Homo sapiens: one gene and its partners. The protein of the gene in region 7 interacts with the protein of the main gene of each other region in a biochemical or structural test. Each region holds a gene or a part of one and is shown on either strand. Other genes may lie near its edges. The genes, in order: DLG2, MAGI1, PARD3, PDZRN4, GOPC, DLG1 and HDAC7.

Evidence for each region.
Region 1: the proteins of HDAC7 (region 7) and DLG2 interact in a test that uses a peptide from one of them, tested with the Homo sapiens proteins (one large-scale study listed by IntAct).
Region 2: the proteins of HDAC7 (region 7) and MAGI1 interact in a test that uses a peptide from one of them, tested with the Homo sapiens proteins (one large-scale study listed by IntAct).
Region 3: the proteins of HDAC7 (region 7) and PARD3 interact in a test that uses a peptide from one of them, tested with the Homo sapiens proteins (one large-scale study listed by IntAct).
Region 4: the proteins of HDAC7 (region 7) and PDZRN4 interact in a test that uses a peptide from one of them, tested with the Homo sapiens proteins (one large-scale study listed by IntAct).
Region 5: the proteins of HDAC7 (region 7) and GOPC interact in a test that uses a peptide from one of them, tested with the Homo sapiens proteins (one large-scale study listed by IntAct).
Region 6: the proteins of HDAC7 (region 7) and DLG1 interact in a test that uses a peptide from one of them, tested with the Homo sapiens proteins (one large-scale study listed by IntAct).

The regions. Positions count from the first base shown.
Region 1 is NC_000011.10:85,617,345-85,620,844, reverse strand, and holds part of DLG2 (disks large homolog 2), read left to right. Parts: intron 1-3,500. UniProt on the Homo sapiens protein: Required for perception of chronic pain through NMDA receptor signaling. Regulates surface expression of NMDA receptors in dorsal horn neurons of the spinal cord.
Region 2 is NC_000003.12:65,426,919-65,430,418, reverse strand, and holds part of MAGI1 (membrane-associated guanylate kinase, WW and PDZ domain-containing protein 1), read left to right. Parts: intron 1-278; coding exon 279-899; intron 900-3,500. UniProt on the Homo sapiens protein: Plays a role in coupling actin fibers to cell junctions in endothelial cells, via its interaction with AMOTL2 and CDH5. May regulate acid-induced ASIC3 currents by modulating its expression at the cell surface.
Region 3 is NC_000010.11:34,805,297-34,808,796, reverse strand, and holds part of PARD3 (partitioning defective 3 homolog), read left to right. Parts: intron 1-3,500. UniProt on the Homo sapiens protein: Adapter protein involved in asymmetrical cell division and cell polarization processes. Seems to play a central role in the formation of epithelial tight junctions. Targets the phosphatase PTEN to cell junctions.
Region 4 is NC_000012.12:41,194,820-41,198,319, forward strand, and holds part of PDZRN4 (PDZ domain-containing RING finger protein 4), read left to right. Parts: intron 1-3,500.
Region 5 is NC_000006.12:117,592,512-117,596,011, reverse strand, and holds part of GOPC (Golgi-associated PDZ and coiled-coil motif-containing protein), read left to right. Parts: intron 1-3,500.
Region 6 is NC_000003.12:197,288,613-197,292,112, reverse strand, and holds part of DLG1 (disks large homolog 1), read left to right. Parts: intron 1-3,500. UniProt on the Homo sapiens protein: Essential multidomain scaffolding protein required for normal development. Recruits channels, receptors and signaling molecules to discrete plasma membrane domains in polarized cells.
Region 7 is NC_000012.12:47,792,404-47,795,903, reverse strand, and holds part of HDAC7 (histone deacetylase 7), read left to right. Parts: intron 1-136; coding exon 137-317; intron 318-523; coding exon 524-720; intron 721-970; coding exon 971-1,144; intron 1,145-2,315; coding exon 2,316-2,535; intron 2,536-3,234; coding exon of another isoform or gene 3,235-3,245; exon of another isoform or gene 3,246-3,500. UniProt on the Homo sapiens protein: Responsible for the deacetylation of lysine residues on the N-terminal part of the core histones (H2A, H2B, H3 and H4).

The DNA of each region.
Region 1 (3,500 bases), on a different chromosome or scaffold from region 7:
CATCAGCACTTGCTGCTTCACCTTGCACTTTTATGTTGTAAAGATGACTTCTTTCCTTTCACCTCATGAACCAACCTTTGCTGGCTTCCAGCTTTCTTCTGTGGCTTCCTCACCTCTCTCAGCCTATATAGAATTGAAGAGAGTTAGGGCCTTGCTCTGGATTAGACTTTGGTTTGAGGGGAATTACAGCTGGTTTGATCTTCTGTTCAGATCACTAAAACTTTCCCTATATCAACAGTAAGCGTGTCTCTCTTATTATTCGTGTGTTCACTGAAGTGGCCCTTTTAATTTCCTTCAAGAGTTTTTCCTTTGCATTCACAACTTGGCTATTTGGTGCAAGAGGGCTGCCTAGCTTTTGGCTTATCTCAGCTTTCAACATAACTTCCTCACTAAGCTTAATCATTTTCTAGCTTTGAGTGTGAGAAATGTGTAACGTTTCCTTTCACTTGAACACTGAGAGGCCATGGTAGAGTTATTAATTGGCCTAACTTTAATATTGTTGTGTCTCCAGGAATAGGGGGACCTGAGGAGAGGGAGAGAGATGGGGCAATGACCAGTTGGTAGAGGAGTCAGATAACACACAACATTTACAGATTAAGTTTGCTGTCTTATGTGGGTATGATTTGTGGCGCCCCAAAACAATTACAATGAACATCAAAGATCACTGATTACAGATCACTGTAACAAATAAAAGACTAATGAAAAAGTTTGAAATATTGTGAGAATTACCAAAATGTGACGCAGAGACATGAAGTGAATATATCCTGTGGAAAATTGCCAGTGATAGACTTGTTTGACACAGGGTTGTCACAAACTTAATTTGTGAAAAACGTGTTGTCTGCAAAGTGCAGTAAAGCAAAGTGCAATAAAATGAGCTATGCCTGTACCTGACTTCATTGAGTGGCCTTGTGTGGTTATTTTATTCCTTTTGCAAGCATTTTACCAAATTTGTATTTGAATTTTCATGTTTGCCATACCAGTAATATATGGAGAGCTTGTCTTTTTTTTTTTGAGACGGAGTTTTGCTCTGTTGCCCAGGCTGGAGTGCAGTTGCGCAATCTCGGTTCACTGCAACCTCCACCTCCTGGGTTCAGGCGATTCTCCTGGCTCAGCCTGCCGAGTAGCTGGGATTACAGGCGCCTGCCACTGTGCCTGGCTAATTTTTTCATTTTTGGAAGAGAGGGGATTTCACCATGTTGGGCAGGCTGACCTCAAACTCCTGACCTCAGGTGATTCATCTGCCTCCACCTCTGAAAGTGCTGGGATTACAGGCATGAGCCACTGCATATGGCTGCACATGTTTTTTCTGTTTTCCAAAACTTCAAGTTTTTTTTTTAATCTCTTCACAGCCATAAAACTCAAAAGAATTAAGCACTGAATCATCCTAGAGAAAGATGGGAAAACACAGTTTTCAAACTTTTGCATTTTCTGTAAGTCAAAGTAAAATAGACAATTTACTAAAGTTTTTTTTTTTAATTTAAAATTCCCCAATTAAAAAAATTAGCTGGGCTTGTTGGCATGTGCCTATAGTCCCAGTTACTTGGGAGGCTGAGACTGGAGGATTGCCTGAGCCCAGGAGTTTGAGACTGCAGTGAGCTGTGATTGTGCCACTGAACTCCAGCCTGGGTATCCCATATCTTTTTTATTTTAAAAGAAATTCCCCGTAGGGACAATTTTGACCTTGGATAAGCTATAGACTCTTGATATTGTAAAATATTAATTAATCCAGGAGGCATAAATAGAATGAATTCCAGAATGAGAAATAGAAGAATACTTTTTGTGTTTAACTACTGATTAGGAGTTTGCTATGAAGCAACTTAGTGAGGAAGACGTAGAGATAAAATGATCTGTTAATTGATTTTATTTTACATATCTATTGGGAGAGTACAAAGCATATGCTAATGACTTGATACTAGAAAATGTGTGAACTTCTGGGTTTTTGGAAATCTGCTCAAGTGTTTTTATTTATGATAGAATATTTGATTTCTCCCTTAGGCCTATTATTGTTTACTTTTGTGGGTAGAAGAATCTAGTCAGTGAGGTATGCACAAAACATTGGATTTTACTTATTTATTTTTAAAAAACTTCAACTTTTTCTTAGATTCAGTGAGTACATGTGCTGATTTGTTACATGAGTATATTGTGTGATGCTGAGGTTTTGGATATGAATGATTCTGTCACCTAGGTATTGAGCATAGTACTCAATAGGTGGTTTTTTAGCCCTTGCCCCACTAGTCCCTTGCGTAGTGTCTATTGTTCCTGTCTTTATGTCCATGTATACCCAATTCTTAGTTCCCACTTGTAAGAACATGCGGTATTTTGTTTTCTGTTTCTGTGTTAATTTGCCTGGGATAAACATTGGGTTTTTAAAATGTTGGATTAAGGCATTCTGTTCATTCATGCCTTTGTCAATAAGTAAATTTCTCACTGTTCTGTAAAATACATTTACTGAACTATACGAATACTATACTTTCTTAAATATATATTCTCCTTATATGCTTATTTCTTAATACTATGTTACCATGTCAGTGATTACAAAATATTTTTTAGTATAAGGGAGAGATTTTTTTTTTGATTGGGATAAGGGAATGTGTTCTCCAGCTACAATTCTTGCCCAGGAATTTATGGCAGTCAAGACACAAGTATTTCTATATCCTCAATGTAGGTTGCTTTGTCAGCAAAGGATCATGAGTTTTATCCAGTCTCTTCTGTCCAGTTAGTCATTCTGAATTCCAACTAATAAGCTTTCCGCATGGGTTCAATTTTTAGTAAGTTTTCAAAGCTATTTCAAGAATTATGGCCAAATCACCTTCATTATGAAACGATTCTCCTGACCTCCTTTATTTTAGGATTTAAGATCAAGAGGAATGGTATAGTATAATAAAGTAGAAAATCCTGTGAAAATGAATTATTAAATTTAAACTTTCAAAGATTATGGGTAAGATTTTTGTAACCCATTTCTTCTGGTAACACCATTTTGCTAGCCACTGAGGCCCTAATTTAGGATACAATTTTGAAGCTTCTATCAGGGGCTTATCATTTTGAAGGACTGTGACATCTTTATCATTAAAAGCATGGTAATACTTGGAATAAACCTATTAAGTTCTGTTCTATTTAAACATCTCTCATAGGTAATAAACAAGCTAAAATTCTTTTAAAAGGTAAACTGGTGTATATATGGTGTAAACTGGTGTATATATTTAAGGCAATGACTCTACTTTCATTTATTTATTCAATCATTTATCCATTCAACAAAGGTGTATTATGAGTGCCTGCTATGTGCCAGGCATAGTGCCAGATGCATGTTTGAAGTAGCAAATGATATTCAATCTCTGCCTGTATGAATCTTAAAATATATTAGGAAGACAGATGCAAAAACAGGCAATTTCAATGCTGTGTGGTGAGGTTAACGCTCTTTGTCAAGAAAACAGACAAGGAACACTCAATCCCACTAGGGAAGATGTAATATTTAAGATGAGATACAGAAGATGAATAGAAGT
Region 2 (3,500 bases), on a different chromosome or scaffold from region 7:
TGAATTCTAAACTTGGATTTCTGCAGTGAGATTTTTTTTTAGGAGAAAGCTCCAATGTTCTGTGAGTGATTATTACATTCTCATTAGCAGGGAAGACACTAGGTGCTGAAAGAACACTTTATTAGCTGTTAAAATCAGTAATAGAAGCACTTTATACCCTATAGTATCACACCCACATGCAGTTTCAGTTCAGCTTTATGTTAGTGGGAGATATTATAATACTGATGACAATTTTCTGGGTGCTGTTTTCTTAACCCCCACACTCTTGCCTTCTACAGGGGATGTGATTGTAAGTGTGAATGACACCTGTGTTTTGGGACACACACATGCTCAAGTTGTGAAGATCTTCCAGTCCATCCCCATTGGTGCCAGCGTGGACCTTGAACTCTGCCGAGGTTATCCATTGCCTTTTGATCCAGATGACCCCAATACAAGTTTAGTGACCTCGGTAGCCATTTTGGATAAAGAACCAATTATTGTGAATGGGCAAGAGACCTATGATTCACCAGCTAGCCACAGTAGTAAAACAGGCAAAGTCAATGGCATGAAGGATGCCAGGCCAAGCAGCCCAGCGGACGTGGCTTCAAATAGTTCTCATGGTTATCCTAATGACACTGTTTCTTTGGCTTCCTCCATAGCCACTCAGCCAGAACTCATAACTGTTCATATTGTCAAAGGGCCAATGGGCTTTGGTTTTACTATCGCAGACAGTCCTGGTGGGGGTGGCCAAAGAGTGAAACAGATTGTTGACAGCCCAAGGTGCCGAGGCCTGAAAGAAGGGGATCTCATAGTGGAAGTTAATAAGAAGAACGTGCAGGCCCTAACTCACAACCAAGTGGTGGATATGCTGGTTGAGTGTCCTAAGGGAAGTGAGGTCACATTGTTGGTGCAACGAGGAGGTAAGTAGGGTTGTTTTGTTCTTTGAATTTTTTTTTTATCCCAAATTCATTGCTTAACTTACTCATCTTCAGATGACCACTGGGGGCTTTTTAAATTTATTTAAATGTTTCAAAATGCCTACTGATTTCTCCAAATACTAACCTCTTTAGCATAAAAATTGTGGTTTATACATTATGACAGACATATGCAGTTAGAATGATACCTTAAAACAGAAATCAGATTTTGCCTTTTTAAAATGTTAAGATTTAAAAACCTAAGTTGGGTGTGGTGGTACCCACCTGTAGTCCTGGCTGCTTGAGAGGCTGAGGCAGGAAGATCACTTGAGCCCAGGCATTTGAGTCCAGACTGGGCAACATATTGAGACCCCATTCTCTAAAAAGTTTTTTTATATATATATAAAAAATAATAACCTTTATCCTTTAAATCTCCTGAACTTGGCCTGCATAGCCTGCAAAATGTGGCTATGGTCACTCCAAACTTGTCTCATGTTCCTCTCCTCCATCTGATGGTGCTTTAGCCACACTGGCTGCTTTTATGGAGCTCCTTTAATGCTTCAAGCCTTTTCTTGCCTCAGGCCCTTTGTATTTACTGTCCGTTCTGCCTGGAATGGTCCTTTCCCAGCTCTTCCCAGCTGGCTCAGTCCCATTCAGGTCTCCTTATGAGAGAGGGCTTCTCCCATCACTTTATCTAAAGTAGCTCCCAACACTTCCATATAATCTTTATCACAGTTTTTCATAACCTTGATCATCATCACCTTTTTAGCACAAGACGTTATTTCATGCTTTTATTTATTTTTCATTATTTGTCTTTCATTAGAATATAAAGCTCCATAAAGCCAGGGCCCATGTGTGCATGTGGACAGCTGTTATCCCCAGCATTTAACACAACACCTGACTCCTTTTAGGTATTTATGAATGAATAGGTATTAAGTGAATAGGTATGTGATTATTTCTATTTGGCAGAAACAAGAGGTCTGCTAATCATATTAAACACTTCCCTCCACATGCTCGCGTTTAGTAGTTTAGGATCTCAGAGATCTGGGTTATTCTAAATCTCGAGGCATTAAGCTTCCTCCTTTCTCCTTGAGTCCGTATCCCACCCTCTGCCTCACCAGAAAACACAGGACGTCACACTGAGCAATACTTTCCACCATATTGAAGTGTCTTGCTCCTGGAATATATACTTATATGTGATTAGTCGTGACTGATAGTTTTACACAGTGGGCCTGAGAATGGCTGTTTCCCTGATCCTTGCTACCATGATTTGTTTCATGAACAACATATTCAGGCCTTTTGAAAAGAGATCAAGAACCAGACTTTGACTTCCTTTTGGTTTGTTGCAACAGGAGAGCTCATTTGTGTCACAGCAGCCAGATTCTCATGTTTTCATGAACCTGTGTGTTCTGCGATCAGAATGGCTGGGGTCATTTGAAGGAAACCCAAAATACAGAGTAGCTGTCTATGTGAATTGAAATGCTCAATGAGCCTGGCTTAGGCAGTTATAAAAGGCATTGTGCAAATTTTATTTTTTTTAAAATGTCATTTCCACCAACTAATTTTCAAGTCTCTTCTTGTACCTAGATCACTTGACTGCTCAGAGAACTGGTTTTAAACAGTAGCCAAGATGTATGTAGTAGGAAATGACTTGGGTATAAGAACGATTATGACAATAATGATGATGGTGATGATGAAACCTGGCACTTATAGAAGAATCAGTGATACACAAAGCACTTTCATACCTGCACGTGCCTCTCCACTGATATTTGTCACTTCCCTGTGAGGTAGGAAGGTGCCACCCCACAGTAGTTCTGAGCTGTTCACCCTGGCTCTGTGGTTTCCAGTCCAATGTTCTGCCCTACTTAACTGAATAACACTGATTTTTGTATAGTTGCTTAATACTGAGGCTGACAGCCTGGAAACTTTCAAATAATTCTTGGTACATCAGGTGCACCTCTGATTCAGCCACTGCTCATTTGACAGACACAAACCACCTTGTTCTCCTAACTCATCTATCCTCTTTCTCATTTCTGTTATTGATGTGGTTTATTATCCCATTAGATTCACTTCTAAGGAGACCAAACATAAAGTTTCATTATAGCCAACTAACTTACACATGTATTAGAACCATATTGTAATGAATTCGCCTAAGCCAGCAAACAACTGATTATAGAAACGTACTCCTTGATTTTATTTTTTATTTTTATTTTTGAGACAGGGTCTCACTTTGTCACCCAGGCTGGAGTGCAGTGGTGCCATCTCAGCTCACTGCAGCCTCAACCTCCTAGTTTCAAGCGATCTTCCTGCCTTAGCCCCCCAAGTAGCTGAGACTATAGGTGCATGCCACCACTCCCGGCTGATTTTTGTATTTTCAGTAGAAATGATTTCTCCATGTTACCCATGCTGGTCTCGAACTCCCGCGCTCAAGGGATCCACCTGCCTCGGCCTCCCGAAGTGCTAGGATTACAGGCATGAGCCACCACACCTGACTATACTCCTTGATTTTAAATATGTTTGCATTCTCTCTTCTTAATTCCCAATGCCATCTTCTCATTAATGGTGTTACATTTTATAACATTTATATGAAAAATCCGGAATATATTG
Region 3 (3,500 bases), on a different chromosome or scaffold from region 7:
GTTGTGGAGGGAATATTTAAAGTCCCACTTGGATGCAAACCCACAGACGGATCCTCCGTCTGTCCTGGGAGGTTCTACCTCCCCACAGAGTTGGGTGCAAGTTGGTGATGTTGAGCTCCCCATAGATGATTAGAGCCCTCGGTATTTTTTATCAAGGATGGAAATAAACATGTAAGATTGGGCCAGAAGGTGCTTTCTATAGGTAATTTTCCATCGGGGGAGATGGCATGCTAAGCCCACACAGCATGCTTTCATCCTGCTTGGCCACTCGCTCAACATTCCTGGCTGGGACCAAGGTCAATGGCAGTAGAGCTGGACATCAGTAAATGTATACAGTTTTACCTGTTTTGGGTACCTTTTCTGTACAAAAGCAAATCTTTATCAAAATAAATGCCGAGTTCAGTGAATAAAGTAGAAAGATGACTGATTTTTTTTTGTCTTTTAGTCATTATTTACAAGTTTTTTCTTTCTTTCTTTTGTTTTTTTTGAGACAGGGTCTTTGTCACCCAGGCTGGAGTGAAGTGGCGTGATCTCTGCTCACTGCAGCCTCAACCTCCCAGGCTCAAGCGATCCTCCTGCCTCAGTCCCCCAAGTAGCTGGGACTACAGTTGTGTGCCGCCACACCTGGCTAATTTTTGTAGTTTTTGTAGAGACGGCATCTCGCCATGTTGGCTAGGCTGATCTCAAACACCTGAGCTCAAGCAATCCACCTGCCTTGGTCCTCCAGAGTGCTGGGATTACAGGCACGAGCCACCATGCCTGGCCTAAATTTTAGCAAATAAGTAAAAATAACTTTGTTTTAACTTATTTAGTAAATAAGTAAACATTTTAGTAAATAAAGTTAAAATAACTTTCGTGTATAGGTCTGTGCCTTCTTGCATCTGGCCTGCTATCTTTACGTGGTTTTTGCCATTTAAATATTACTTTTGTGTATTCCTTTTTTCTCCATCAACTCATATTGGTCCTTGCAAGTAAAATTTCAAGCTCCACATCCAAGTGACTTTAAATATCAATTATTTATTTTTTTCACCTAAACAGAGTATATTTTGTATATAGTCTCTGTACTCTATTCTGTATATATTTTATATATACTCTTTATATATATACACACACACACAAGCACACAAGAGAAATGAAAATGTGTACACAAAACCTGTACATCAGTGTTCATAGCAGCAAGCCCACATATTGTATAATTCTGTTCCTATAACATGACCAGAGTGGGTAGCTCTATAGAGACAGTAGAGTGGTGTTCCGCTAGGACTGGGAGTTTGGAGTCATGGAGACTGTGAATGGGTATGAGGTTTCCTTTTGGGATGATGAAAATATTCTAAGATCATGGTGATGGTTGCACAGTTCTATTCAAGTGTATACTTTCAATGGATGGAGTTTATGGTTATGTGATTATATGTCAATAAAGATGTTAGAAAAATAGACTGCATAAGCCACTATGAACAACGCTCCATTTTTAGGTATTTTGTAGTTCTGAGCATTTCATAAAATGACATATATATGTGTATCAGAGATGCTCAAAACACTTCAAATGAAAACTGGCTGTCTTTAGGAGTTTTCCATATAGTGTGGAATCCCTGCTTTCTCAGGCCTGTCCAATGTGTCCTGTTTAGTGTCTGGTAAGCTCCTGGCTGCTGAGCCTCCAGGTCCCCTGGTCTCTGTGTGCTACCCCCTACCCCCTCTAAGGGCTTCACCAATTGTTCTTTAGCCAGAGACTCCTTCTACCCAGCTCGCCAGCTACCTTTGTGCAGTGGAGGTTGAGAATGCCCCAAGGATGCACGTAATGGACCAGCCTTTCCAGCATTTGGCTTTGGCTCCCAGAAATTTTGAGCTTTGGCAAATCTTACAAGCTCTGTGAGCCTCTGTTTCCCCATGTTCTCATATTCAGAGGTGCTGGGCTGGACTCCCACTGCCAGTTCCCTGAGCTGTGCAGGGACTCCTGCTCTGCATGGTTTGTTTTGGTGCTCATGGGACCATAAGTGATGTGCAGTGGCTTTTCAGATGGTTATACAGGGTCCAGGACCTCTTACTGCTTCCCTCCATGCTGTGAGAATATTTTGCCTCACCCCGACCCCCCCAACTTTGAAATGACGGGGCTTGCTCTCCAGGTCAAATGGATGCTATTCAGAGTTAGGGTAAATTTTGCTTAGGGTTGGCTGGGTGAGAAGGCTCACGCCTGTAATCCCAGAGCTTTGGGAAGCTGAGGTGGGAGGATTGCTTGAGGCCAGGAGTTCAAGACCCAGCCTGGGCAACATAGTGAGACCCCGTCTCTTTTTAAAAAAATTAGCCAGGCATAGGCCGGGTGTGGTGGCTCACGCCTGTAATCCCAGTACTTTGGGAGGCCGAGGTGGGTGGATCACGAGGTCAGGAGTTCGAGCCTGGCCAAAGTAGTGAAACCCCATCTCTACTTAAAGTACAAAAAATAGCTGGGCATGGTGGTGCACACCTATAATCACAGCTACTTGGGAGGCTGAGGCAAGAGAATCACTTGAATCCTGGGAGGCAGAGGTTGCAGTGAGCCAAGATAGCGACACTGCACTCCAGCCTGGGCGATGGGGAGATTCATCTCAAAAAAAAAAAAAAAAAATTAGCCAGACATGGTTGTGTGCATCTTTAGTCCCAGCTGCTCAGGAGGCTGACGTGGGAGGATTGCTTGAGCTCAGGAGTTTGAGATTGCAGTGAACTATGATGGTGTCACTGCACTCCAGCTTGGGTGACACAGCGAGACTCTGTCTCTAACAGAAAAAAAAAATTTGTCTAGGGTGTCCTTCAGAATTTCCTTCCTTCTTCCTTTTTTTTTGTCTTTTTGAGACGGAGTCTCGCTCTGTCGCCCAGGCTGGAGTGCAGTGACGTGATTTCGGCTCACTGCAAGCTCCACCTCCTAGGTTCACGCCATTCTCCTGCCTCAGCCTCCCGAGTAGCTGGGACTACAGGTGCCCACCACCACGCCTGGCTAATTTTTTTGTATTTTTAGTAGAGGTGGGGTTTCACCGTGTTAGCCAGGATGGTCTCGATCTCCTGACCTCGTGATCCGCCTGTCTCAGCCTCCCAAAGTGCTGGGATTACAGGCGTGAGCCACCGCGCCCGGCCCCAGAATTTCTTATTGTCTCAAGGTAAGTATCTTTTAATGTAAATCACATCATGCTCAGAAGTGACTAAGACAATTCCCTTTGTGAATTACAGATGTATGATATTGCATGATACGAACTGTACGGTGTATATATATATATATATATATATATGCACATACGTGTGTATTTCTGGGGTGATCTTTTATGGTGGTATAAATTTAAGTCATTTTAGAGATGATAGTCAAGTCAACATTCTCCCAATCTTGGTGTTTTTAACTATTCAGACACTGTAAGATTTAAGGTTTTGGAACTCAGATGTATATTTTTCTAGTGTCTGGTTTTTCCCTTCTTGTATTTGAGACGGAGTCTCACTTTGTTGCCCAGGCTGCAGTGCAGTGGCAGAGTCTCGGCTCACTG
Region 4 (3,500 bases), 6.6 Mb from region 7:
CATTTCAAAAAAGGATGATAAATCTCTGTTGAGGAACATTTCTGATGAGGAACTATGATTATATTTTAAATTTGTAATTAATATTTTATATGTAGAGTTTGGAATAAATTATACAATACTTTTAATATTTCTTGGTGTAATATGGCTACCTTGTTCCTGTCATTATCTTTTATATGAAAGAAAAAGAGAAATACCTTTTTTTCTCTTTGTTGTGAAAACCTGGTGAGAACTCTTTGTATGTTTTAACTGTATTGTTGTATTCGGGGGTGATAAAGTGAGCACCTATATGCTAGTAAAATTGGGTTATGTTAATGAAATTTTATGTCCCTGCCATCTGCCATCTCTGTCCTTTTGACATTTTATTAACTGGTTAAGATAATATTACTTTTTGTTGCCAAAAATGGTTAAGTTACTTTTATCAGTGAGTTTATTTCCAATGGATTAGTGAAGCTATAAATAGGAATTTGGAAGGTTTACTTGACTCCACTATTGTTTTTAAAAATTCTGTTCACTCTAGGCTATATAATCACTAGTGCTATCTCTCTGAATACTTATATAAACTATCAGAATGGAGGCAGATTTTCTATATTAAATTTTAAATAAAGTTTTAGCTTTTCATTCATCCTCTGTGCACTAAACAAAGTTGAATTTTTAATGAATCGACATAGAGTAAGAGTGAAGAATATAGAAGACCCAATAGTTTGCTGTTTTGGGAAAAAAGAACACAACATTTATAAATTAGCCGACTACAAAATTTAGAAAAAAAAGAAGAGTTATCTTTTGCCAAAAAAAAAACTTTGATTTATATCTAAAGAGGTCTCTTGTATCAAGATTTTTATTCTTCCAGTTTTGTTGCCGAGAAAGTGCAGACCTACTTTTGCTGTTGCTATCCAGTTCATCTTGACAATTTGTCTAGTGGAAACATTCACATGCTGTAGCTTCTAAAGTTAGAATGTGCACAGTATGATCTAAAGGGCAACATACTTTAAACAGAAGATTGTCCCTATTACTTTCTGCATTATCTCAAAAACATATTAAGTTGTCCAGTTACCAATGGAAAATAAATTCCTACATTTGATATTATTAGAAGAACTGATGGAACTGAATACATATATTGTTACACCCACACAAACACATAGACACAACAGAAATACGTATTGGCAATTTAAAAAATAACTTATTCTAGCTAGATGACAATATTATGTATGCTTCATTAATGTTACATTAGAAAAGAAAAAGAATTTTTTATATTGTCATACAACAATTTGGTTACAAACCTACTGTTTTTTTTAAAGAGGTAATTTTATAAAACTATGGTTGAAAATCAAGTGCATCTAGACACCTACATAGTACTGTTACTAATATATGTCAGATTAACCTTATTTAAACCCTGTAAGATAAAAAGTAAGGAGGTCAACCACAGAAATTCAAATGAAATTTAACTAGCTGCGGTATTATTATTCACTTTCATTTGCATATATTAGCAGTTAATGACTAGAGCTTGAAATTTGTCTCAATGATATAGATTTTTCAATGTGTCTTTTATACCAGGGTACATTGATTTTATGTATATATGCTATAGTTGTAGAATGGATCAATGTGACCACATTTGCAGTTAAGAAATGGGTTAGATGAGGTGCATATTTCTAGAATGTTGTGTGTTAAATAGCATGAAATATTTTAGAAAGAAGATTATTAGAAATAAATTGCTCTTGCTTAGTTGTTCAGTGATGCTATCGGCTTTTTGAGTGAATAGATATTTGTGTGACTTTAATATCTAGTTAAACAAGAAGTGTGTTTTTTCTTGTGCATATGGTGTGTGTTGTAAAAGATCCCTATGTAATCATTAAAGTTAGAAATATTTGATGCTTATCATTATTTTAGTTTCTCTGTCATTATGATATCAATCAACTTTAAGCAGTTTTTAGCTAATTGGAAATTGAGAAGAAATCTATCAATTTAAAATGTGCAGATGCATATTTTAAAACAGATTTTTAAAGTAAAGATAATAATTTATTTTCTGTTTTGTGATCAAAGATTTGTTCATTGAACAAATTTAATGGCTCAATTTTTGAATTTCAAATGGTCATGCTGATTTAAACCTGGTGCAACAAGTAAGTTTGTTAACAGTGTAAAGGGTACAAACTAGTTCATATATTATAAAATTATCCGTATGACTTATGCACAATCTGACACATTACTAAATGCTTTGAATTTACTGATATATAACTGAAATAAAAAATAAAAACAATAAGAGATTCTATGGTTTATATATAGTCAAGATATGCTCAAAAATATTTTCTGTAGCTAATTGCTTGATGCACACATACAAGTTTATGAATTGTTTTTAAAAAATAATAAAATTTTCCAAAGTTATTCACTTGAAGAGGAAGTAGACATGTTAAAGGTTTTGTTCTGTTGGTGGTTAAAAAGATTTTATAAACTCTAATAAATAATATATTAGTTATAATAGTTTTGCCACAGTTCAACAAAGGCTAGTAACACGTATTATTTTTTAATATTTGCATTCTATTGATAAAATTCAAGAATAATAAAAGAATAAAAAATTACTGTCATTAGGTAAACCTATGTCATATTTTTCACATAATATAAGGCAAGTTAATTTTTGGAGTCAGTCTCCACAAGCAACTATGTTAACCAGTTTCTAGCTATTTCCACATCCATATTTGTTAAACTATTTATGCTTGTAAATTTTAAAAAATCAGTTGTGATAGTTGAGTTACACTAGGTGTCAAAATATCACTGGAGACTGAAAAGGCAGAAGATATTGTTGAAGGCATTTTGAAACATCACAGAAATTCACATACACCAAGAATTCACCACAGTATACAGCTGAATAAAAGCATGCTGTTTTTCATTCTTTCAAGAATCAAAGGAATCACAGAAAATCCCTGATCCTATCGAAGGTTGGGCACAATTCTGGAAGAAGGCATGACCATTGCTGTAGTTATCATCATGTTAGGATGCCTAAGTGGTATGTGGGAGGGAGTTGAGAAACAAAGTTCACTGTTGCTTTTAGCATCGATTCCTCTATTCTTTCTTTCTTTCTTCTTCTTCTTCTTTTCCTTGTTTTTTCTGGGTTTTTTTTTTTGGAGACAGGATCTTGCTCTGTCACCTAGGCTGGAATGCAGTGGCATGATCACAGCTCACTGCAGCCTCTACCTCTGGGACTCAAGGTATCCTCCAGCCTAAGCCTCCCAAGTAGCTGGGACTACAGGTGCACCCCACCTCACCTGGCTAATTTTTTAAAAATTTTCTGTAGAGATGGGGTTTCACCATGCTGCCCAGGCTGGTCTTGAACTCCTGGGCTCAAGCGACCTGTCCACCTTGACCTCCTGAAATGCTGGGATTACAGGCGTGAGCCATAGTGCCCAGTCTCCTCTCTTATTTCTATGATACTGATAGCAGGCAATGCAACCATAACTCCAGAGTGGGAAAGGGTGGATAATCATTCATGGCTCTTTGTTTACACTTTCTTC
Region 5 (3,500 bases), on a different chromosome or scaffold from region 7:
TGGGAATGTAAACCACCAACCACTATGAAAAACAGTGTGGAGATTCCTCAAAGAACTAAAAGTAGATCTACCATTTGATCCAGCAACCCCACTCCTGGGTATTTACCCAGAGGAAAAGAAGTCATTATATGAAAAAGATACTTGCAAACATGTTTATACTAGCACAACTCATAATTGCAAAAATATGGAACCAGCCCAAATACCCATCAATCAATAAGTGGATTAAAAAAATGTGGTGTGTATATATACAGACACCTGGAATATTACTCAGCCATAAAAAGGAATGAAATAGTGGCACTTGCAGCAACCTGGGTGGAATTGATTGGAGACCATTATCTAAATGAAGTAACTCAGGAGTGGAAAACAAAATGTATGTTCTCACTCATACATGGGAGCTAAGCTAGGAGGATGCAAAGGCATATGAATGATACAATGGACTTTGGGGATCTGGAGTAAAGGGTGGGAAGGGGATGAGGGATAAAAGATGACACATTGGATACAGTGTACACTGCTCAGGTGATGGGTGCACCAGAATCTCAGAAATCACCACTAAATAACTTATTCACATAACCAAACCCCACCTGTTCCCCAGAAACCTATTGAAAAAACAAAACAAAACCCAAACAAACAAAACAAAACACAACTGAGTTCCTTTCCATTGTGAGGCCTAGAGAGGCATTGGAATGAAACCGCAGTTATGGCACTCCCTTTTGACCTAAGCAGTTATCTCTGGAAGCCACCTTCTATGTAGGATTTAGACTAACTGACGCCAAGTAGCCATAAAATACCATATGCTGGACACCATAAGTCATACCTTATAGTGCAACAATGAATAGCCAGTCACTAATCAGTGATTGTAAACCAATGAGAATTCTTATCAAGCAACTTTGTATCTGCCTTGTTCCTTTTTCCCTTTAAAATCTGCTTGTAACTCAGGTGCCAGAGCACTCCCCAGGCATCTGGGAAATATGTGTTGAGTAGCTGTCCTCATTTTGGCTCAGGTAAACTAAAGTATATTTTGTGCCTCAGCCTTTTCCTTTTAGGTTTACAGTAGGAATAGTAATACTAGCAGTAGTAGGTGTGTTGGAATAGAATAAAGATTGTGAACCAATACTTTAAAAAATTCACCTCTGCCTTGAAAGAGTGTTCTGCCTGTTACTCCTTTTTTAAAGTAACAGCACAACAATACACCTTCTTTCACATCCTCCTTTCCCTCAGCAATTGCTCTGTTAGTATCTCTTTGAAGTGATTTATTATTCATAGCCAACAGTAGAGAAACTTTTAACTTTGATCTAGAGCCACATTGATAATGAACTGGTGATATGCTTGTCCCTTTGCTGCTTTAAATCTGTCCTGTTTTTAAATAGGCTGTTTTGCAACATTGAAGCTTAAGTTTAATATTGATCCAGTACGCACTTATGAACACGAATTATGTGCCAGATGCTGTATTGGGCACTTAGGATACAATGGAGAGCAAAAAAGGGATGTAGTCATGGCTTTTATGGAGTTTGGATTATATTGGAGGAATTTGTTGGGAGAATAATCATGTAAATGAGAAATTGCAACTTTGATGAATACTATGAAAGGTACATAAGAGTAAATGAGACCCTATTTTGGGATGTCAGAGAAGGCTTCCCTGAGGAAGTTATTGAGCTAAGACATAAAGGAATTATGTGTAAATAGGAATGAATTAAGCTAAGAGAAATAGGAATGCCATTCAACATTGCCGTAGAGGGAATGGGAAGTGAAAAGCACCTGTGGTGGGCAAGCGCATAGTGCATTTGAAGATTCGAGAGATAGTTGGTATGTGTAACAAGAGAAGAGGGCAAAAGAAGCAAGGCACAAGATAAGTTTGAACAGACAGAGAGGGACTATTTCTACATGACTTTATGGCCATGCAAAAATATTTGGGGCTTTATCATAATCGTGGGAAGTCTTTTAAACCAGTTCGTAGCCTCAGATATGAAGTTAGAATAGTTCACTCTGACTATGGTATGGAGAAAATTGCAGAGAATGACATGAATGAATGCAGAAAATTGTTTAGAAGGTTTCTGTTTATGTGAGATTATGATAGTGTGGAGTAAGATAATAGAGGTAGGAGAAGGTATTCAGAACAAGAGAAACTGGAGAGGTAAAAATAAAAAAAACCTAGAGATGGATTGGAACAGAGGGATGAGGGAGTTCAGGATAAATCCAAGTGACAATCTTGTGCAGCTGGTTGCCTGAATAGATAGATGAATGTGTTATATTATTAGCAATAACAATATTGCCAACTTTATTGATCAGTTACCATGGGCCAACCTCTCTTCTGAGTCTTTTACATAGACTGATTCATCCAATTCTCACAACAGTCCTGGAAACAGGTTTATTAGTATAGTTACTCCAACTTTACAGGGATTAAGTAAGAGGCCTGAGGCTACGGAGCTAGAGAAATCAGTCTCTGCACAAACACATTATGTCTGATGGGGGATGGAGGAGGTGGAGAGAGAAGCAGACAGAAAGAGTGAGTGTGGCTGAATAGATAGCAAGAAGTGAGATTGTAGGGTACAAGGGAGGTTTTGTTTTCATTTTGTTTTTAAATAAAAACAAATAAAACATAAGTCTGTGAGAAGCATCTACTTGAGAGAAAAGCCAAATATAGAAAAAGAGTGGGGTAGTTAATATTAGTAAGATTTTGTAATAACAGCTACTTAGAAGAGGGAGAGAATGGGAGCAGACAGTAGGAGGTTGTGGAAGTTTCTGTCTGATGGCTTTTTTTTTTCTGTAAAATAGGAGCCCACGTCAGTTGCTAAAAGTAGGTGAGAGTAAGAGCATGAGGCTAGTAGAAGAGGTTTGAGATAGTAATGGAAGAGTGGGAGAGCCAATTGGCCAGAGAAACAGGACTGCCAGGCATTGTTGAGGAATGGCTTGGGGTTAGTTATCATAAATTATGGTGCAACCGGTCTGTACTGTTGTGTGATTTTCTCTAGCAATGCATATCTGTTTAGGTACAGGCACAGTAATGAGAGTAATAACTAGGTTTATTCAATGTTATAGCAAAGGAGTTTGTTATACAGACAAGTGTGTTATTGAAGTGAAAGTGGTAATGGGGCTGATGAAAAGGAGATAAATTGAAGACTAAGGAAGGAGAATTGACAGGATTTGATAATTATGTAGATGCAGGAGATAAGAGAAAGGGTTAAGGATAACACTGCATTTCTGTTTGGGAAATGATTGATCAGTATCTGTAGTGGGTTGAATCGTATCCCTCCAAAATTCATATCCACCCCCAAAACCTCAGAATGTGACCTTATTTAGAAAGAGGGTCTTTGCAGGTGTAATTATGTAAAGATGGAGGTAAGATTATAGTGGATTAGAGGGGGCCCTAAATCCAATGAAAGTGTGCTGATAGGAGACAGAAAAGGCCACACACAGACACAGAGAAGAAGGCTATGTGATGATAGAAGCAGAGATTGGAGTGATGTATCTACAAGCCAAGGGATGCCAGTGATTGCCAACAG
Region 6 (3,500 bases), on a different chromosome or scaffold from region 7:
AAATAGGATTGTGGGATCATACGGCAGTTACATTTTTAATTTTTTGAGGGCCCACCATAATGTTTTCCATAGTGATTGCAGCATTTTACAGTCTCACCAGCAGCACACAGGATTTCCAGTTTCTCCACATCCTTGCCGATACTTAATTTTTTTCCTTTCTTTTTTTGATAATAGCCATCCTAATAAGTGTGAGTATATGACTCCTCTTCAAGTGTATGTAAAACATAATAACCAACATTTATTGAGCACTTTCTATGTGCTAATACAAATATATCATTTAGTCATTGTAATCCTGTGAGGTGTACATTCACCTGTATGAGGTGTTTGTACTGTTTTATAGACTGGAAAACTGAAGCACTGAGAAATGACCAATCTTGCCCTTGGACCCTCAGATGCTAAATTGCGGAGCCAGAAATTGAACTCAACTAATCTGAATCCATAGATACTTCTCACCGTCAACCATTGGGATATTCTTTATCGTTGTTTTTCAGAACTGAGTATTTTAATCTGATAAAGAATACTAAATGACAAGCATGCTTAAGACAGATAGCAATCTTTAGGGTTAGTAATCTTTAAATGATTGTCACTTTGAAGGAAAATATTTATAATGGTGCATTATGTTTATGATGATGGAAATCACACATTTTGAAAACAGTGTTTAGTAATCAGGGTTTGAGATCTTCCAGCTATAGTGGTAAAATGTCAAAATTTCTTAAATTTCTTTTGCATTATATTAGTCCCACTGATGTTACATTTTAGTCTCTTGCTAACTGTGTGTGTGTGTGTGTGTGTGTGTGTGTGTGTGTGTGTGTAACTTTGTAGGCTAGATTTGAGTAAGGAAAACAGGATATGGATCACATCGTTGGCTGAAACTTCCTGAAATGGAGAATTTTAGTAACTTCTCACTTGATGGTTTTGATTCAATTAGATTGAGTTCTTTGCTCATAGTTTGCTTACTACTGCTCTGAAGCAGTGTTTTGATTATGTTGAATCTGGCTGAATTCTCTTTAGAACCTTGGAATCAGAGTTGTAAAGGCATCTAAATATTTCTTCTAAGCCATTTCCTCTCTGCAGGGTCATATTTTTCCTCAGTGCAGAATCCAGACTTGGACCAGATATTACCGTTAGTTGTCACGTCTCTTTACTTAGGGCACATTTCCACAGCTTTTCTTTGTCTTGTGTGAGACTGACTTTTTTTTTTTTTTTTTTTTTTTTACTATTTGGAGACAGGGTCTTGCTCTGCCACCCAGGCTGGAGTGCAGTGGTGGCTTACTGCAACCTCTGCTTCCCAGGCTCAAGCAATCCTCCTGCCTCAGGCTCCTGAGTAGCTGGGACTACAGGTGTGAGCCCCCACGCCTGGCTAACTTTTTCTAGAGACAGGTGTTGCCCAGGCTGGTCTCGAACTCCTGAGCAAAGTTCTGGGATTACAGGTGTGAGCCACTGCGCCCAGCTGAGATTGATGATTTTGAAAAACGCAGTTCCTTCCACTCTTACTTTTTTTTAATATAATTTTCTCATTTTGGGTTTGTCTGATGTTTCCTTGTGATTAGATTCAGGTTTTGTATTCCTGGCTTAGGATTCTGTACATCCAGAGGTACACAGAGTCATCTGCTCTTTGTTGATGATACTGATTTTGATTACCTAGTTGGGTGTTGTCTGAATTCTGTATCCTATAGTCATTGTTTTTTACCCCTTGTGGCTTATAGGCAATATGTGGGGGAGACACTTTAACACCATGTACATATCCTACTCCTTAGCAAAATTTCCACCCATATTTAGCATCCATTGATGATTCTTGAACCGGTTTATAATATGGTTGTTGAAAAGTAAGATTTCTAACAGTAACACTCCTAGGTTTACCAGTTAACACTTTGCATTTTATTCTAAACAAGAGCCTTCCTTCTTTTTTTCCCGTGTCTTTCATGAACTTGCAGATACCTGTTTTTTTTTCAATGACTTATCATTTATTACCATCCTTAATGACATTTGTGCTCTGAGTGATCCAGTGGGGGCCCTTTCAAGCTTGTGTCCTTATGAGATGCCCTCATCATTTTTTGGAGCACTTTCTTAATTTTTGGCATAACAAGATGTTCCAGGTTTATCTTGTACCTCTCCTGCCCCAGCCCTGGAATCAGCCATTTCTCTGAGAAGCTCTGGTTCCTTTTAGTACACACCTTGTTTTATGGAATATGCTTGTGAGTCATGTATGATTCTTAGTCTAATAGTATCTAAAGTATTCAAGTGATTTATTTTTGCCTACTAGCTTGACATCTTTCCTTTCTTTAGTGTGTGAAACAATAGTACAAACTTTTAAATTTTATAGGATATTCTTTCTTCTAGGGGTCAAAAATGACTTTTTAAATGAACATTGGTTTAGAAGAAAGAGTATTTGTGCTTGAGTAGATTTGACTATTGTGGTATTATCTTAGTATGTCATCTGCCCTTCACTGATGATGTTAATTTTGATTACTCAATTGGGTATTGTCTGAATAATCATACTTGCTTTTAGTAAATGAACTGATAGAATTTTTTTCCTCTGAAATGGTAGGGTTATATTTCAGTGTTCTTCAGCTTTCTAGTTGCCTTTCCTGTAACCCTCCAAAATAAATTTATTATAAAAATGATGCATGTTCTATATAAAACATTTGAGATCAGATTATTATATGTAAAATACCATAAGAAAATATTCACACCAGAGGTTACCTCCTACTTCATCCATGGGATGAATATCCTGGAATGTTATTTGTGTGTGTGTGTGTGTGTGTGTGTGTATGCGCGTGTATACACGCCACCCCCCACCTTCATTTTGCAAAACAAACTTCTAAGTAAAACAGTTATTTCCCTTGTGAGAATTGATACTTAAAATCAGCATGTAAGGTGAAAAACCTCATCTAGTTAAAATTATCCCTGAAAAGCCTTCAGAAATTTAACACTAGCTCTTGTTAATTACAGCACAATTGTTTTTTTTCCTCTAGTGGAAAGGAATGATTTCTTCACTTGAGCCCTAGACGAAGCAACTGGCTTGTTTGACTTCTTGTACTAAAAACACGTAATTATAGAATCACACTCAGCACAGTGAGATATAGCAAGAAGCTCACATTTTGAGAGGCACATGAAAACTCAGACTACCTAAAGGAAGAATCTTCTTCCTTCTCATTTTTTTATTTGTGACAGTCACTTATTGGGTAGACAGAGTTGCCCTTTTTTGCAGGGGAGATATACTGCAGTTGTATTTGTATAAGTGTGAATAGTATGATTTCTCTGTACTATACATATTGTTTTTATCTTCTAAAGTTTATCGACAAATGTCTTTCCATGTCAGTAGATTTCTACCATTTTATGTATGTATGTATGTATGTATGTATGTATTTTTTTTTTTTTTTTTTTTTTTTTGAGACAGTTTCACTCTTGTTGCCCAGGCTGGAGTGCAATGGCTTGATCTCAGCTCACCACAACCTCCGCCTCCTAGGTTCAAGCGATTCTCCTGCCTCAGCCTCCTG
Region 7 (3,500 bases):
GAGTGGCTGGGGTGCCCACCCCCACTCCAAGCCCCCCCAGCTTCTTTCACTCCCTTTTCTTGCTGCCTCACCCCATCATCTTCATTGTTCTCTGCTGGAATCTTCTTCCCCGTGACTTCTCCCGCCTCTCCCCCAGGCTGACAGTGACCGCAGGACCCATCCGACTCTGGGCCCTCGGGGGCCAATCCTGGGGAGCCCCCACACTCCCCTCTTCCTGCCCCATGGCTTGGAGCCCGAGGCTGGGGGCACCTTGCCCTCTCGCCTGCAGCCCATTCTCCTCCTGGACCCCTCAGGCTCTCATGCCCCGCTGCTGACTGGTGAGTCTGCTGCTTCTTCAGGGAAGGGGCTGGGTCCCTGCACCCTGCTAAGAGCCAAGCTTGGGATGGACCCATCCTTCCTCCCCATCTCTGTCCCCCTGTCCTGCGCATTGCCCTGCTGCACCCTGGCCCCCCACCCTATACCCTCGCTTCCTTCCATTGCTCCCTGTGGTTCCCTCCTTATTCCACCCCCCGATTCTTTCCAGTGCCCGGGCTTGGGCCCTTGCCCTTCCACTTTGCCCAGTCCTTAATGACCACCGAGCGGCTCTCTGGGTCAGGCCTCCACTGGCCACTGAGCCGGACTCGCTCAGAGCCCCTGCCCCCCAGTGCCACCGCTCCCCCACCGCCGGGCCCCATGCAGCCCCGCCTGGAGCAGCTCAAAACTCACGTCCAGGTGATCAAGGTGAGAGGAATTGGGCAGTGGAGGTATTGAGGGAGTGTTTAACTGGGGACTTAGGGGCCAAAAGAAGAGGGGTACTTAGAAAGGGCAGGGAACTGGAGGGCAAAAGAGGGGGATGTGGCTTCTTGGGGCCCAGAGCTGCATGGCAGCTGGAGTCCTAGCAAGATGACTGGCTGCCTGGCCCAGCCCACCACCTCCCACCCCATGCCCCTCGCTCCACCATGGCTTCTCAGCCAGGTTCTCCCCTCCCCAGAGGTCAGCCAAGCCGAGTGAGAAGCCCCGGCTGCGGCAGATACCCTCGGCTGAAGACCTGGAGACAGATGGCGGGGGACCGGGCCAGGTGGTGGACGATGGCCTGGAGCACAGGGAGCTGGGCCATGGGCAGCCTGAGGCCAGAGGCCCCGCTCCTCTCCAGCAGCACCCTCAGGTATGGCAGTCCCCACCTGCCCCTCAGAAAGTGTCCTCAGAAGACTCTGGGGCCTGGCATAAGATGGGGAAGGGAGGGAGATACGACATCAGTGCAACAGGCAGCTCTAGGACCCATGGTTGCCCTATAAGATCCTGGGTGCTGGATCCACACTAAGGTGTAGGCACACACACACATGCACACTCACACACCCATACACACACATACACACAACAGCTTGCCAGTCTCAGGTGAAGCATGTCCCTTTTCCAGGAAGGAGTCTGTCCTTTCCTGGAGCCACACATAGTCCTGCCCTGGTATGTCTCCCCTCTATCCAGAAAGGTGGCTAGGGCCAGAGGTGGGATGGAGCCAGGCTCCAGCGTGTCCAGCAGAATGCTCTCACTGTGGGAATCAAGACCCAGTGCATTAGCTTGCCGGAGCTGTTGGGATACAGGCTGGGCGCCTTAAACAGCAGGCATTTACCATCTCACAGTTCTGGAGGCTGGAAGTCAAAATCGAGGTGTTGGTGGAGTTGGTTCCTTCTGGGGGCTGTGAGTGTGAGGGCAGGGGCTGTTCCCGGTCTCTCTCCTTGGCTTGTGGATGGTCATCTTCTTCCTGTGGCTTCATGTGGTTTCCCTCTGTGAATGCCTGTTCAGATTTCCTCTTCCTATAAGGACAATAGTCATACTGGGTTAAGGCCCACCCTAACGACCTCATTTTAATTTGATTACTTCTGTTTGTAAAGACCCTATCTCTGAATAAGGTCATGTTTAGAGGTACTGGGGGTTGGGACTTCAACATATAAATTTGAGGGTGGGGAACATAATTTACTCCATAACACATGATGACAGGCCACACACATGTTCTTGAACAGTTACATAGTCCAGGACAGGAGGACATCCTGGTCAGCACAAGATCCAGCGCCCCTCCCCTGGTTCCTGGCTTTGGAGCCCCAAGGGCCCGGGGAGCTGGTGGAATGGGTGGTCAGTCTGGGGTGCAAACCTGTCAGGGGGCTGCAGGGGACAGGGGGCTTAGAGAGTCAAAGGCCAGAGCCCCACTGGACAGCAGGTCTAGGTTTATCCTGGAATCTCTCTAGGAAAGGGGCCTGCTTGGCAGTTCCCAAGACCTCAGGCAGAAGTAGAGGGAGCAGGACCCTGAAACACTGGAGACCAAGGCCCCATCTTTCCCCTAGGTGTTGCTCTGGGAACAGCAGCGACTGGCTGGGCGGCTCCCCCGGGGCAGCACCGGGGACACTGTGCTGCTTCCTCTGGCCCAGGGTGGGCACCGGCCTCTGTCCCGGGCTCAGTCTTCCCCAGCCGCACCTGCCTCACTGTCAGCCCCAGAGCCTGCCAGCCAGGCCCGAGTCCTCTCCAGCTCAGAGACCCCTGCCAGGACCCTGCCCTTCACCACAGGTGAGACCGGGAGGAGGGTGGCGGGTGGAGGGAGGGGCTCGGCTGCACGAGTCCATGTGGGTGTCTTGGTGTCACTTGGGACATTTTTAGAGGCCACAGAGTGCTTAGCCTTGTTAGGCCCACGTAGTACCCATGGAGCACATGGAACAGCTGGTTATTGCATTTGGCCGATGAGGACCAAGGCTCACGAAATCTAAGGTGACAAGCCTGTGGTCAAATAGCAAGTGGTAGTCAAGCCAGGATAAGAATTCCAGTCTCCTGCCAATGCACTCAGCCCTTTTAAAAAATGATATTTATTACTGTTGCTCTGCTTGTAAAAAGAGCTCAGAAGTATTTTAGACATTTTGAAGAGTACAGAAAAACCTAAGAAGAAAAGAAAAATCACCAACCAGTATCCCACCACCCAGAAGTAAACCCTCTGAAATTCTGCTGTATTTCAGTCCAGGCTTTGTTCTGGCCATATGTACATGTACAGATGCCATGAACACATGAACTACGTTTTGTATCCTGCTTTACTTAGTTAACATATTATGAATCCTTCTTGGCATAATTAGTCTTTAAAACTGAGAGTCTCATAGTATTTCATTAATGTATTTCATTTTTACTGAGGGATCCCTTATCAGTTAGACATTTAGATTATAGCTTATTTGAATTTCCTTATGCATAAATCTTTCCTCATGCTTGGGATTATTTCCCAAGGTTCACTCTAAAGAAGTAGCATTCCTGGGTCACATGGTGTGAGCATTTTGAGAGTCGTTGGTGTCCTAGACGCACAGAAATTGACCCTCCCACCCGCAATGAGCAGGACCCTCCTCTGAAGACTTCCCACGGGTCAGACTGAAATAGTCACTTCTCCAAAGCTGGATTTGTCTATCACATGGTCCAGTGTCATCGTGGGCTTCTTAGCTCCCGGTTTGGGGGTTTCCTAGGAATTCTTTTCCCTCCTGCTGCCCCTTGGTAGCCTC